2 separate regions of the Homo sapiens genome follow, and region 1 is linked to region 2. A link means that fine-mapping ties the variant in region 2 to the expression of a gene that starts in the linked region. Tissue or cell type: whole blood. Region 2 holds a variant in brackets; the other region holds the start of a gene. All regions are shown on one strand. Distances are between the middles of the regions.

Region 1 (8,106 bases), 74 kb after region 2:
CTCCCTACTTTCTCCATGTCTCTAGGAGTTACAATGCAGACTGTCCAGAATTGCTATTATCGGTCTGTAGAATAAAATCTAAGTATAGCATAGATGTAAGATCCTTCACAAAAAGACCTCTACCTAACTTTCCCAGCATTACCTTTATCATTTACCATGTATTAGCTCACTGGTTCTCAAAGTATGGTCCAGGACCACCTCCCCAACCCCCAGCCATCAGAGGGAGTCTGTGTGGAGTTAAAACCTAGGTCTGTCAAACATGAATGTGCACCACCCTACTTTATACATTTATCTCTCATTTTGTAAATATTAAAAGTAGAGATAATTGAGATCAAATTCTGGATCAGCCACAAATTAGCTATTTGCTAATTTATTAGCAAAATTAGCATGTTTTCAACATGCAAATAACCATCTAGGCAACATAGTTCTGCACAGTCTGGGTACCTTAGCTGTCTCCTCTTTAACAGTATGGGGCACAACCAAGGCCAGGAATAGACACTCATAGAATAGTAATGACAGGTGGAAAATTTCTATCCTCAATAGTAATCAAGAAATTCAAGTTAAAACAAGATATCAGTTTTCAACCATCAAATAAAGATCAAGAAAATTATAATATGAACACTCATACATTATGACAGTTGTATAAACTGACAAAACTTTTTCAAGTTTATGAACATGTATTAAATGTTTATATACGTCTACCTAGTACTCCTGGGAAGCTATCTTATGCAACAGTGAAAAATGTCAGTTTCAGCAAAAATGTTAATCACAGAATTACTATATGTAACAGCAGAAAGTAGAATGACCTAAATACTCAAACATAAAGAAACAAAATTAAGATATAAGATAGTTACCAAGTAGTAGGCCGGCTACGGTGGCTCACACCTGTAACCCCAGCACTTTGAGGCTGAGGCAGGTGGATTGCTTGAGCCCAGGAGTTTGAGACCAGCCTGGGCAACATGGGGAAACCCTGTCTCTACAAAAAATACAAAAATCAGCAGGGCTTGGTGGGGTGGGCCCATAGCCCCAGCTACTCTGGAGGCTGAAGTGGGAGGATCACCTGAGCCCAGGGAGACCGACGCTGCCGTGAGCCAGGATCGCAACCATGCACTCCAGCCTGGGTGACAGAGTGAGACCCTGTCTCAAAAACAGAACAAAACAACAAAACAAAACAAAACCAAAAAATATTAACAGAGGTAGCCTTTAAATGACAGGACTGTAGGACAGCTGGATAGAGCGAAAAGAGCATCATCACCAGTCAGGCAAGTGGAGTGTTCATTTGAACTGTGGTCTAAGTGTAAGGCATTATTATTATTCTATTAATTTCCAAATTTGGAATAAACATTATTTTATGATGGAACAGTTATATCAGCTACATTATCTCTAAGGCTCAGTCATAAAATGTTAAGAATTTAAAATGCATTTTTAATCGACATCAGAATTTAAAAATAATAGAATCTATAAGCTAATCTTTTTTTTCTCTTTCCATGCCAGGAGAACATAGTTCCTCTCCAGCCTTCCAGTCAGGGGAAAAAGCAGCACCAACTACCGGCTGTCTTAATTACAGCTATTGCTTATCAAGTCAGGAAATTAAAAAAAAAAAAAGCCCTATAAAAGAATAGCCTTAGTCATCAAATCTCTAATGTAGAATCACCTAGCTATACCTAGGTATCATGGAAGAAAAAGGAAACTCATTTACTCTTGGAGAAATGAACTCTCGGTGGCTCATGCCTGTAATCCTAGCACTTTGGGAGGCTGAGGCGGGCAGATCACAAAGTCAGTCAGATGAAAGTTCAAGACCAGTCTGGCCAATATGGTGAAATCCCATCTCTACTAAAAATACAAAAATTAGCCAGGCGTGGTGGCATGCGCCTGTAATCTCAGCTACTCAGGAGGCTGAGGCAGGAGAATCGCTTGAACCTGGGAGGTGGAGGATGCAGTGAGCCGAGATTGAGCCACTGCACTCCAACCTGGGCGACACAGCGAGGTGTTACATCTCAAAAAAAAAAGAAAGAAAGAAAGAAAGAAAGAAATGAACTCTCCAATAGGAATCCCTGACTCATCCCCAAAGCATGAACCCTAAGGCCACTTCTCCAGTACAGGAGTTCAGAGGCTGGGCAACCTGTCCTGATGGCCCGCATCACCAAACAATGCTCCTTCCTGACGGTATATGCCTAGGGATAACAAGGTGACTAGCATGCAAACAAGAAATGACCAGGGACCACACCATCTCTTCTTCCATAACCAAAGTAAGACGGTAAAAAACTAGTTTTAGGCCGGGCATGGTGGCTCACGCCTGTAATCCCAGCACTTTGGGAGGCCAAAGCAGATGGATCACTTGAGATGAGGAGTTCGAGAGCAGCCTGCAAATATGGCGAAACCCCATCTCTACTAAAAATACAAAATTAGCAGGGCGTGGTAGCTTGCGCCTGTAGTCCCGGCTACTTCGGACAAAAATTAGCCGGGCGTGGTGGCACGTGCCTATAATCTCAGCTACTCAGGAGGCTGAGGCAGGAGCATCGCTTGAATCTGGGAGGCAGAGGTTGCAGTGAGCTGAGATTGCGCCGCTGCACTCCAGCCGGGGCGACAGAGCGTAGAGCGAGACTCCGTCTCAAAAAAAAAACCAACCAACCAACCAACCAAACAACAAAACCCAAAAAAACTAGTTTTAAACATCTTAAATATTCAAAGTATTTTCTTCTACTTTTGCTAGAAAGTAGTAAAAAAGGGACTCCATCCAATTGCTGTAAATGACACCATTCAAAAGATACCAAGACAATAAAAACTCTCAATAGTAAAAAGGGAAAATGCCGTTTTCCTTAACCCTTTCAGATCAAAAAGTAATTTTTCAAAAATACATAGGCTAAATATCAAGAGCAAATGTTTAAATATAAGCAATATTTTTATTTTTAATAAGGAATAAGTTAGATTATTTAACTTATATTTTCAATCTTCAAAAGATACTGAGAAAACTTTACTTCCGTCCTCTATTATTGGTCTGGGGAGGCGGGAATCACAAAGCTCAACGATGCTAGTATAATACTGTGTATGGTCAAGGGCCTATTTTATAAGCTGTTAAAAATTTAACGCTAAAGCTTTACTAGACCAGTCTCTTTAAAACGTGAAAAAGTATTCACTACTAAGTCATATCACCTCCACCATAAAAACTACTGTACTTTTTAAACAAAAAATAAAAACTAGCCAATGTTTGCTGCCCATTCATTTTACAGGCATTAACTGTGTATCCTTCTCATAATCAGATTTCAGAATTAAGTGATTATTCTTCGAGGTGTACCTTACCCAAGATAAAAATTTTCCCCAGCTTATTTCCCATTCCCAACCCCCGCCAAGACTAAGGAGCAACCACTTCCCAAAGTCCCACTTCCTTTTTCATTCCCCAGACCTACAGGGTTTCCAACGCCCCAGTCTTGCGCAATATCCGTAGGAGCAGCAGCCGCAACCACCGCCTCCTAAGCCGGGAAACAACCCTAGAGGGAACATTGTCCAGCAGAAAAATAAAAAGGGCGGGGGTTGGGGGGGTGGGTAACGTAGGAAGTCGACTTCTGGTCTCACGCCTTCGGATCTGACCCCCTCACAGTGTGCTAAAGCAATAGTGTATCTAGAGCAATTTCATGAACAAGACTTTTAACCTTCACCTCCTCTCAAGACTGCCTGCACAAGCAGAGGGCGGAAAGTAGGGGGTGGCGGAGGCGGGGGGGCGCTGGGAAGGTTATCTCCCAGTTCAGGGCTTCGGCCCGTAGCGTCGCCTCCGCCCCACCAGGACTATTGTTCCCAAGTTCCCCACCCCCACCCCGGATAGGAAGTGATAGTCACATCCCCTCCGCCTTCGGCAATATCCCCTGGGGAGTCCGAAGTCGGCTGGCTTCCTTCAGGATAATTCCCCCACCCACACTTATCCCCTGAACCTATAGTCACACGGACCCCAAGACCACCTCAAACCTGGGCCTCAGGAGAGGAGAAGCGGGACGCGGGTAAATGGAAATTAGGTAAACCCATGAGATTCCTTATGGGCAATCCTTTCCCAAGCGTTGGAGATCATGACTGCGACCCCAGAAACGGCCTAAGTCCTACCCTGCCCGCTTTGAGACCAGCTAGAGCAAAGGGATCCCAGGAGTTAGTGCCAACCTCAATACCCCCGTTCCTCTGTCAGCCACGATCTGCACTCCTCCCGGTCACAGCCAGATACCTTGCCTCGACCCTCCTGGGAGGAGCGAACTGCGCGGGGAGGTGTGGAAACGCGAGCCCCCCCCCCCGGCCTGCACCTCACTTGCCTACGGCTCCCGGCCCGGTAAACAATAGGTGGTCGCGAGCCACGGTGCAGGCTGCGGGCTCGGCCGCGCGGCCGCTCCCTTCGCGTCCCGGGAACCCGCGCGGGGGTCGCGAACATGGGAGAAGAAAGGAGGCCACGGGGGGAGGCGCTCTCGCCTCCCGCTGGCCTCCGAGACCACCCGGCTCACCCGGCTGGTGCGCGCCCCCTCCGCCCCTCTCCTCACAGAGGTACACAAAGCACTGGCGGCCCGGCCGGGAGAGGCGGCGATGGGCTCCGGCGCCGGCAAGAAAACGCGACAGCGAGGGGAGAGACTCACCATGAAGTCCCGGGCGAAGTTGTCCTCCCCATTGTGGTCAGGACTCTTCATGGCCTGGACCCTCTGGATGAATTTCCTCAGGATCTCCACTTGCTCCATCCTCCCGCGTCCCCCCGGCTGCGGTCGCTGGCCCCCCCGCCGCCCGCCCGCCCGGCACAGAGCCCGCTCCGTCTTCCCCAGCTCGTTCCCCCAGCACGTCCCTCCCTCCCGACCCCGCCAAGCCCCGCGGCTCCCTCCTCCTCCCCACCGCCCTAGGCGGCGGCTGCGGCGGCACCGGCTGGGCTCCCGACACCACAACTTCCAGGAGCAGCCGCCGCTCTCCCACAGTACCAGGCGAGCCGCTGCGCTAGCGCCAACCCCAACCCCCAGCTTGCTCCATCCTCCTTCCCCGCCCTCCTCCTCCGTCGGAGACGCCGCCGCCGCCGCCGCCGCCGCCGCCGCCTCAGGAACACAGCTAGCTCTCCGCTCGCCCTGCCCCCCCTTCCCGGTTCCTCCTCCCCCCCACCCCCCGCCAGCAGCCGCAGCCGCAGCCGCAGCCGCCTCTCCCCACGGGCGCGTCCCCGCCGCCACCCAGATGCGCGGCCTCGCGCTGCGGCTCCGCCCCAAGCGCTGCGCCCGCAGATGCATCCCCGCCCGCCTCCCGGCCACGCCCCCAAGCCCGCCCCGCCGGCCCCAGCCCCGCTTGGAGTGGCTGGAAGGCACTTCAGCGGGCGGCCTGGAGACCTGACTCCATTTCCGGGGCGTGGCCCCGCCCGGGGTGCTCAGAGGTCGGAGTATCGCTGGGAGGAGAGTTGGTTCATTTGGAGGAGGGAATGCGACTCTGAGCGGGCCAAGCCCTAGTGGGTCAGAGTAGGATTCTGATGGAATTTGCGGTCTCACCGCCTACTAGGGAGGAAAAGCAGTTTTCAGGAGTCCCGCACCGCCGCCAGCCGTGGGCTGGGACTACAAGTCACGGTCTGTGGAGTCCAGGAGTGGGGGCGGGCGGGAGGCAGGCTGGGAGCTGTAGTAGTGTCACCGCCACGTTCGCAGCAGGTAGATGCTCATCTTGCTAACGGATTGGTGAGAGTGGACAGCAATTAGGCTTTGGCACCTTGGAGCGTGGCTCCAGCTAAGGGAAGCGAAACGCTTCCTGGGTGAGAGGACTTTTATTCTTTGCTCATCCTCTTAAACCTGGCGAGTGAGCGCCTGAGGTTCGGAGTGCCTTCTTCACAGACGACGCGAATGTGGGGTCTTCGTGTTTGCCGAACTGAAGGGAATTTGCCTTCCTGCCTTTAGGTTCGCAGCAGTTCATAACTGAATAAGAGACTTTCCTCCATAGAATGGACTTTATAAATCTATTAATTTTTTTTTTTTTTTTTTTTTAGAGCTAAGGTCTTGCTCTATCTCCCATGCCAAAGTGCAGTGCTATGATCACGGCTCGCTGCAGCCTTGAACTCCTGGGCTCAAGGCATCCTCCTGCCTCACTACGTCACCAAGCCCAGCTAATACATTTTAAAAATTTATTATTTATTTATTTATTTATTTTTGGTAGAGAAGGGGGTCTCACCAGGTTGCCCAGGCTGATCTCGAATTCCTGTGCACTAGGGATCCTCAGCTTCCGAAAGTGTTGGGATTTTAGGCGTGAGCCACCGCGCCTAGCCTATAAATCTTTATTCATCTTTGTAAACTTCTATCAGAGAATATATTCTGGTCTAACTCATCATTTTACAAATAAAGCGACTTCCTGACATCCCCCAGCGTATTCTTAGCAGAGCCGTAACTAGAAGTTATTTTACTTTCACAACAGTGGCCTCTCACAATGTGACAGAACTGAAGGATTTGATCCATGAACTGACTTTCGTCATTTATACCCACAAACCTTTTTTTACAGAGCAGATTGGTCAGCGAATTTGGTTATAATAGGAAATATCAGTGGTAGAATACTTTCTCAGATGAAAGTTAGGAGCACTATGGAATTTAGTGAAAAACTCATTGAAGAAAATAGGTGTAGGCCGGGCGCGGTGGCTCACGCCTGTAATCCCAGCACTTTGGGAGGCCGAGATGGGAGGATCACCTGAACCCGGGAGGCGGAGGTTGCAGTGAGCTGTGATCACACCATTGCACCCCAACCTGGGCGACGGGAGTGAGGCCCTGTCTCAAAAAAAAAAAAAAGAAAAGAAAATAGGTGTAACAGGATATAGTTTATTTACTTCTTCAAAAAAAGGAAAATATTTCTGTTAAAATAATCCAACTAATACATCCACTCCAGAAATATGCACTTCAGACCAGGTGCAGTGGCTCACACCTGTAATCCTAGCACTTCGGGAGGCCGAGTTGGGTGGATCACTTGAGGTCAGGAGTTCGAGACCAACCTGGCCGATATGGTGAAACCCTGTCTCTGCTAAAAATACAAAGCCGGGTGTGGTGGTGCACGCCTGTAGTCCCAGGTACTCCAGAGGCTGAGGCAGAAGAATCGCCTGAACCTGAGAGGCGGAGATTGCAGTGAGCCGAGGTCGTGCCACCACACTCCAGCCTGGGTGAAAGAGCGAGAGTCTGTCTCAAAAAATAAAAATAAAAAGGCCAGGCGCGATGGTTCACACCTGTAATCCCAACCCTTTGGGAGGCCGAGGCGGGCGGATCACCTGAGGTCAGGAGTTCAAGACCAGCCTGGCCAATATGGTGAAACCAACCCCGTCTTTACTAAAAATACAAAAAATTAGCCGGGCGTGGTGACGCATGCCTGTAATCCCAGCTAGTCAGGAGGCTGAGGCAGGAGAATTGCTTGAACCCAGGAGGCGGAGGTTGCATTGAGCGAGATCACGCCATTGCACTCCAGCCTGGGCAACAAGAGCGAAACTCTGTCTCTAAAAAAAAAAAAGAGCCTCCCTGCCTGATTCTCCTGCCTCCGCCTGCGGAGTGCCTGCAATTGCAGGCGCGCGCCGCCACGCCTGACTGGTTTTCGTATTTTTTTGGTGGAAACGGGGTTTCGCTGTGTTGGCCGGGCTGGTCTCCAGCTCCTAACCGCGAGTGATCCGCCAGCCTCGGCCTCCCGAGGTGCCGGGATTGCAGACGGAGTCTGGTTCACTCAGTGCTCAATGGTGCCCAGGCTGGAGTGCAGTGGCGTGATCTCGGCTCGCTACAACCTCCACCTTCCAGCCGCCTGCCTTGGCCTCCCAAAGTGCCGAGATTGCAGCCTCTGCCCGGCCGCCACCCCGTCTGGGAAGTGAGGAGCGTCTCTGCCTGGCCGCCATCACATCTAGGAAGTGAGGAGCCTCTCTGCCCGGCCGCCATCCCATCTGGGAAGTGAGGAGCGCCTCTTCCGGCCGCCATCACATCTAGGAAGTGAGGAGCGTCTCTGCCCGGCCGCCCATCGTCTGGGATGTGGGGAGCGCCTCTGCCCCGCCGCCCCGTCTGGGATGTGAGGAGCGCCCCTGCCCGGCTGCCACCCCGTCTGGGAGGTGAGGAGCGTCTCTGCCCGGCTGCCCCGTCTGAGAAGTGAGGAGACCCTCCGCCCGGCAGC
Region 2 (8,106 bases):
AAGGATTCCTCATTCTGGGTGAGTAAGAGCAGGATGAAGCCATTAACAGGAAGAACCAAAAGAGAGCTTCTGGGAGAGATTAGCTTTCAGAACATACTGAGTTTCCTCTGATGAAAGGAATCAATGTGACAATGCAGAACTGCAATTCGATAAAGAGCCACTACCTAAACAGCATGTACAAAACCTCCTGGTCACTGGACTTCACAATGTTCTTGGATTTCCTAGTTAATGTCTCCTACACACCCACATCTTCTGACTCTCTTTTATTACCTATAATTTTTGAGTCCACATTTGTCATGTATACAACTTGCTGAAGCAATCACCAACTTTTGAAATGGAAAAGAATTTTAGGAATTAAATAATCTAATGCAGTGGCATGATCATACCTCTGCAGCCTTGAACTCCTGGGCTCAAACAATCCTTCCATCTCAGCCTCCCAAGTAGCTAGGACTACAGGCACGTGCTACCATACCCAGGTAATTAAAAAAAAATTGTTTTGTATAGATGGGGTCTCGCTTTGTCGCCCTGGCAGGTCTCAAACTCCTGGTCTCAAGCAATTCTCCTGCCCTGGCATCCCAAAGAGCTGGGATTATAGGCATGAAATGAGCCACGGCGCCTAGCCTGTGTTCTCTTGTTTTAAACAGAACTTTCTAAAGTTATCTTGCGTACTGTTATTTTCCATATAACAGCTTTATGAAATGCTACAAAAACATTAAGAAACAAATTATCTAATATTTAAGAATATTATCAGCTGCAGAAGAAAATAAATTATAAATCAGGGTGCTTTAAAAATAAAAAAATTATATTTTAGGAAAAAAAATCCAGAATTCATTATCACATCTAAAATGTACTATACAAACACAATAAAAGGACGATAATACAAACTGTTATTGCTATTACTTAATCATTCTAGAACTGAAATACTGGTGTTGACAGTACTTGTAACGGTGTCCTTTACACACAAGATAAAAAGGCACACTGCACAACTTAACAGATGTTTGCTTATTAAGGTACCTCTAAATCCTCAGTCAATATGATACAGGCTTACAGAATAAATTTTCTCTTTAGATCTCTCACTCCAGGAAGTCACTGTAGTTATAAATATCTCTAAAAAACACTATTCATTTTAAAGTCTTAAACAACCAACTAGTATATCAAACTAAAATTTCTACAGAAATAATACTGGAACACAGAACATTTAAACAAAACTTTTACCGATTAAATTGTCAGAAAAGTAGTAAGTGGGGACTTATTTTTACTTCTCACAGCATAGCTTCTAAATAGTTAATACACCTTTCAAGTCATTTCATTCAACCACACAGTTCTAAGATGATTTTTCTCAATTTTTCAGATTCCACATTTTCTTTAAGATTTATGGTCTGCAACCACAGACAGCCATCCTATAAAAAGAGTCACCTATATTTACAAGTTTACAGAAAACATGATTTCTTAAGAAGAAAATACTAAAAAGTTATCTGGAATGATAATCCATCTTTTCTTCTGTTTTTTTTTACTATTTATCCATTCATCTATGGAGAGATTTCTCTCAAACATTTAGTTTATGTCTACTATGTACCATGCAATGAGGTACGAAAGTAGGTTTGAAGTTAACTACTTATCTGCTATGGGTATTATTTCATCTCATCTCCTACAAAGTATGACTTTTTTATTATATTCCCGTAAAGCTCTGACCTATTAGACAGAAAGAGCCTATGATAGAATTATAATCCTAGTATAGATTTCAGGATATTAAAAAAGGATTGATTCAATGGAATAAAACCTTACAAAGATCAGACTTTGATCTAATTAGAAAAAGATGAAAAGGTGATGCGGTATTTATCACATATTTTCTGGAGATTATTTAAATATAGTTAAAAGTTTTAAAAAATACAACAATAGCTGGGCACAATGGCTCATGCCTGTAATCTCAGTGCTTTGGGAGGCTGAGGTGGGGGAGGACTGTTGGAGCCCAGGAGCTCAAGACCAACCTGGCAACATCTCTACAAAAAAAAATTTTTTTTTAATTAGCTAGGTGTGGTATATGTGCCTATAGTCTCAGCTACTTGGGAGGCTGAGGCAGGAGGAAAGCTTGAGTCCGGGAGGTTGAGGGCGCAGTGAGCCCTGATTGTTCCACTGCACTCTGGCCTGGGTGAAATAGCAAGACCTCGTCTCAAACAAAACAAAACAAAACCCAAACACTGAATATTGCAATAAAAGAACTTTAGCCTATAATTCCTGCACTTTGGGAGGCTGAGGCGGATGGATTGCTTGAGTCCAAGGATTTGAGACCAGGCTGGGCAACACAGTAAAACCTCATCTCTATAAAAAAAATAAACTCGGCAAGGTGATGTACCCGTGAGTCTGGGAGGCTAATCTTTTTTGTATTTTTGGTAGAGACGGGGTTTTGCCATGTTGCCCAGGCTGGTCTTCAACTCTTGGCCTCAGGTGATCCTGCCTGCTTCGGCCTCCCAAAGTGCTGGGATTCCAGGCATGAGCCACTGCATCCAGCCTAAAAACCTGTATTTCCAGATATAAAAACTTTAGCTTTGAAATTAATCTTGAATTCATGGAATAAAACAGAAATGCTTTTCAATTAAAGTTTAAAGATGCTGGGTGCAGTAGCTTATGCCTGTAATCCTGGCACTTTGGGAGGCTGAGGTGGGTGGATCACTTGAGGTCAGGAGTTTAAGACCAGCCTGGCCAACATGGTGAAACCCTGTCTCTACTAAAAATACAAAAATTAGCTGAGCATGGTGGTGGGCGCCTGTAATCTCAGCTACTTGGGAGGCTGAGGCAGGAAAATCACATGAACCCGGGAGGCAGAGGTTGCAGTGAGCCGAGACTGTGCTACTGCACTCCATTCTGGGCAACAGAGCGAGACTCCATCTCAAAAAAAAAAAAAAAAAAAAAAAAACCCAAAAATTAAAGAAAACTGTTTATAGCCTACTCAGCTTTTCGAAATATTAAATATCTCAACTTAGATTAAATTATACAAAATAATACAAATGTTTGGCCGGGTGCAGTGGCTCACACCTATAATCCTAGCACTTTGGGAGGCTGAGGCAGGGGGATCGCCTGAGGTCAGGAGTTTGAGACTAGCCTGGCCAACATGCAAAACCCCATCTCTACTAAAAATACAAAAATTAGCTGGATGTGGTGATACATGCCTGTAATCCCAGCTATTCAGGAGGCTGAGGCAGGAGAATCGCTTGAACCCGGGAGGCAGAGGTTGCGCCACTGCACTCCAGCCTAAGTGACAGAGTGAGACTTCGTCATCAAAAAAAAAACCAAAAACCAAAAAACAAAAAAAACCAATCAAACAAAACAAACAAAAAACACATTCGAGGCCGGGCGCGGTGGCTCATGCCTGTAATCCTAGCACTTGGGAGGCTGAGGCAGGCGGATCACCTGAGGTTGGGAGTTCGAGACCAGCCTGACCAACATGGACAAACTCCGTCTCTATTAAAAATACAAAATTAGCCAGGTGTGGTGGCACATGCTTGTGATCCCAGCTACTAGGGAGGCTGAGGCAGGAGAATCGCTTGAACCTGGGAGGCGGAGGTTACGGTGAGCCAAGATTGCACCATTGCACTCCAGCCTGGGCAACAATAGTGAAACTCCATTTCAAAAAACAAAATAAAACAAAACAAAAACACATTTGATTCTACATTATAAAATATTTGGCTAGATTCAGAGCATGTCATAATAGGATTTAATTAAGCTAAAGGCATTGTAGGAGGATTTCCTTGCACAATAATTCCTATGTTAATAAAGGAATAAGAACGATGTCACATAAAACTTAAAAACGTGAAATTGTCACTTGGCTAATAAAAGAAATGCATATTTCCTAAAACTCATGGACCGATATTAGATTATCCTAACAAACTGAGATCAGCATTTGGTAATAAATCTGTCATTTGGAAAACCAAGAAAATTCAAACAAATATTCTGGGAACTGACAAAACCATTTAAAGGGAGAAAAGGAAAATGAAGGTTATAAATTTTGCAACTTATTTTCTCATACTTGGTTTAACAATGTAATAGTTATCATAGACTCAATGACAAAGATGTAAACAAATTCTACAAAAAAAAAAAAAAAATCTCAGCACCTTCAGGGACAAGGTGGTTATATATAGAATTGAAGCAAGACAATTGGTTAGAAAACAAAGGCAGAAATGAGAATACTAAGAGAATACAGTGTTTTTGTCAGGTCTAGAAGTTGAATATCCAGTAAGATGTTACAAGGCTAAAATAACACTGAATTATAACACAACAAAAGGGAGTTAACTGTGGCTCTTTAATTCTGCTTAACTGAAAAGCATATACACAAGGCCAGGAGTGTTGGCTCATGCCTGTAATCCCAGCACATTGCACACTGGGAGGCCAAGGCGGGCAGACCACCTGAGGTCAGGAGTTCGAGACCAGCCTGGTCAACATGGCGAAACTCCGTCTCTACTAAAAATACAAAAACTAGCTGGGCACAGTGGCGTGCGCCTGTAATCCCAGCTACTCAGGAGGCTGAGGCAGGAAAA[T/AT]CACTTGAACTTGGGAGGTAGAGGTTGCAGTGAGCTGAGACTGTGCCATTGCACTCCAGCCTGGGCAACAAGAGTGAAACTCTGTCTCAAAAAAAAGAAAAGAAAAGAAAAGCATATACACAAATAACTAAAACACTTTATACAAAATGAAATTCAAGTAGAATCAATGCAGAATTACTTGGGTGGGGGTGGAAGGGAAGAGTAAAGAGAACAATGCAATTATTTTTTAAAAAAGTAAAACATTAACGAATTATATGATTTTTGACATGAGATCTTTCCTAACTTTATTTCATTTAGAACATAATTTACCTTATATCGGAGTCATTAAATAGCCATCATAATACAGATACGAATAAGAAGGAAATGAGTTTAAGTAAAAATGTTAAGTGTCCTGGATATTCTTCTCATGTTAGACAAAACACAAGACAACAAAAAAAAGGCTAAATATTACATCTTAACAAAGAGTAAAAGTTTCCTAAAATTAATAGACCAAGAACACCTACCACTCCATCAGCAATTTTCTGAGCTCCATGAATTTCATATAGTTGTAGCTGTTTTTCAAACAGTTGGGCAATAGCTCTATGAACAAGTTCATATTGCTCCTATGAAGGAGAAAAATGATTAAAAAACAAAATGAAAACAACATTTTAAAAAAGAAGAAAGCATTTATAAAATAGCAGTTTATAAAGGGAAACAAACAACTATACCTTTGTTTGTACTGCAGAATGCCTTTGTGTTCTCATTTCTTGTATTAAATTAAATACATTAAATTCCTCTGGTATTTTCTAAAACAGAAAATTTAATACATCAACTTTGTGTATCTATTCAGAAAATAGTAAAATCTTCTTCAGCTTTTCACATAAAACTTAAATACCTGCTGGTTTACTGCAAACATTTATTGAACACCACTTAATGCATCTCAGACACTGTGCTTGGCACTGTGGAAACAAAACTGTTCTTGACCCTCAGCATTCAAGATGGGGAGACAGTTATGTCCAGCCAAAGTATGACTGCAGTATACAGGGAATAAAGAGGCTATGGCTAACTGTTGAGTGTGTGCAGCTACAACATAGTTGGATATCAAAAGAAGGTTATCCCATAAAAAGTGAAGGAAATATACATAAGCACAGCAGATTCAATGTATAATCTATGTGGGGAATTGAGAAGTTTGATGTAAACAAAGCCTAAGACTAAAAGAAGGAGAAGGTACTCAAAGGAGGAGAGAAGATAAGGATATTTAGGATCAGACTGTGAACATAATAAAGAGACTGAATTTATTCTATTGGCCAGTATCTCCTGGATTGGCTATATAAGGACCAGCTAAAAGACCTAGGTAAAAATATAGATCCTTTGGCTCCAAGTTGGGGAACTAATTATGAAACGACCTAGACAATTCTTTTGTGTATATGGAATTGCGACTACTGCAATAGGCAATGTTGACATGAGAAGATCTGATATTCACACAATTTTTGTATCAAGGAAGAGGACAGTCTGAAAGAGTGAGAAACTGGCGGAGGTTTACAGAAGCAGAAATATCATAACTGTTATCAACAAGAATATTTTGGAGTGATTAAGATGGAAGGGTTAAAAATGATTTCCAGGTTTGCTGCTTGGAAGTCCTTATATACATCATAAGATTTTTGGGTTTTTTTTTTGTTGTTTTTTTTTTGAGACGGAGTCTCGCTCTGTCGCCCAGGCTGGAGTACGGTGGCGTGATATCCGCTCACTGCAAGCTCCGCCTCCCGGGTTCACGCCATTCTCCTGCCTCAGCCTCCGGAGTAGCTGGGACTACAGGCCCCCGCCACTACGCCTGGCGATTTTTTTTATATTTTTAGTAGAGACAGGGTTTCACCGTGTTAGCCAGGGTGGTCTCAATCTGCTGACCTCGTGATCCGCCCGCCTCGGCTTCCCGAAGTGCTGGGATTACAGGCGTGAGCCACCGCGCCCAGCCAAGATTTTTACATGAAGACTTAACAACTAGGCCGGGTGCAGTGGCTCATGTCTGTAATCCCAGCACTTTGAGAGGCCAAGGCAGGCGGATCACCTGAGGTCAGGAGTTTGAGACCAGCCCGAAACACGGTGAAACCCCATCTCTACTAAAAATACAAAAATTAGCCAGGCATGGTGCCGCGTGCATGTAATCCCAGCTACTCGGGAGACTAAGGCAGGAGAATCGCTTGAACCTGAGAGTCAGAGGTTGCAGTGAGCCGAGATTACACCACTGCCCTCCAGCCTAGGCAACAGAGTGAGACTCCATCTCAAAAAAAAAAAAAAAAGAGAGAGAGAGAACTATGTTCAAAATACACAACTTTTATTTTATTTTATTTTTTGAGACGGAGTCTTGCTCTGTCACCCAGTTTGCAGTGCAATGGCACAATCTCGGCTCACTGCAACCTCTGCCTTCCAGGTTCAAGCAATTCTCCTGCCTCAGCCTGACAAGTAACTGGGATTACAGGCGCCGGCCACCACGCCTGGCTAATTTTTGTATTTTTAGTAGAAATGGGGTTTCACCATGTTGGCCAGGTTGGTCTCAAACTCCTGACCTCAGGTGATCCGCCCACCTCAGCCTTCAAAAGTGCTGGAATTATGGCATAAGCCATGGCACCTATCCAAAATACACAACTTTTAAAATGACCAAATGTTTGTTTTGTTTGCTAGCATTCATTTATGTGTCCCTTCTCATTCCAATTTTAATCTTTGACTTTTATGTTAAAATGTGATCGAATTCCAGTTAAATTTTGTTCACTTAAGCATTTTCATTTGAGAATTAGATGATTATAGTTTTTGAGGAAAAAAATATTTAACCCCAGAGGGCTTTTTAAGGAACTGTTTAACATGTAAATATTTCCTTGCAACAATAAAAAATGGAGAGATGGCAGGGAAAAAAGAGAAATAAGGGGAAGAAGGAAGAAAAAGAAAAAATAAACATTTTATTAATTCTACTCTGTACAAGACAAAGATGAACAATTCATGGAAACTATAAAGCTATGAAGGATTAAAGGCGCCTCTCTAGAAATGAACACATTATGGAACCAGCAAAAGAATCAAATGTATACATAATGAAGAGACTTGTTTTTCAAATCTATAATGAAGGCTGTATCTTATTTATCTCTGTATCATCCACAGTATCAAACACTATTTCTTGGAAAAAGCAGTAGTAGGAACAACAATCACAACAGCAACAGTAATCAACACTAACAATAAACTGAGTACTTACAATTTACCACATAGTTCTGAAGAACTTCACAAAAGTTATTTAATTCTTATGCATTACTACTACTATGACCCCTATTTTCTGATAAAGAAATAGAGGCACTATGGGATTAGTATTTTGACCAAGATCCCACAGCTAGTAAATGAGAAAGCCAGAATTATAATCTGGGCAATTTGGCTCGAGTCAGCATTCATAGACTACAATACTATAATGTCTCCAGCAGGCATAAATACATACTGAGTGAAATACACTTATACCTAGAGTAAACATAAAAGGCAATGGGCCAGGCACCGTAGCTCACGCCTACAATCCCGGCACTTTGGAAGGCCGAGATGAGTGGATCACCTGAGGTCAGAAGTT

The links. PIP is the estimated chance that this variant, and not a neighbour inherited with it, causes the effect.
Region 1: PTPN12 starts here. The variant in region 2 is fine-mapped to the expression of PTPN12 in whole blood (INTERVAL, PIP 0.96).

The regions. Positions count from the first base shown.
Region 1 is chr7:77,534,147-77,542,252 of GRCh38, reverse strand. It overlaps PTPN12 (protein tyrosine phosphatase non-receptor type 12), which reads right to left and starts at 4,958. Exons shown (of 18, transcript NM_002835.4): 1 at 4,608-4,958. The coding sequence starts at 4,706. It overlaps LOC124901681 (a long non-coding RNA gene), which reads left to right and starts at 5,304. Exons shown (of 3, transcript XR_007060395.1): 1 at 5,304-5,882; 2 at 5,972-8,044. RefSeq lists enhancers at 1,704-2,285, 5,439-5,658, 5,829-5,878 and silencers at 4,419-4,468, 4,609-4,818, 5,069-5,368.
Region 2 is chr7:77,607,976-77,616,081 of GRCh38, reverse strand. It overlaps PTPN12 (protein tyrosine phosphatase non-receptor type 12), which reads right to left. Exons shown (of 18, transcript NM_002835.4): 10 at 5,240-5,317; 11 at 5,036-5,134. Among named protein-coding and RNA genes, the nearest start is that of PTPN12, 75 kb to the right of the region's middle. The variant T/AT (reference allele first, on the strand shown) is at 4,533.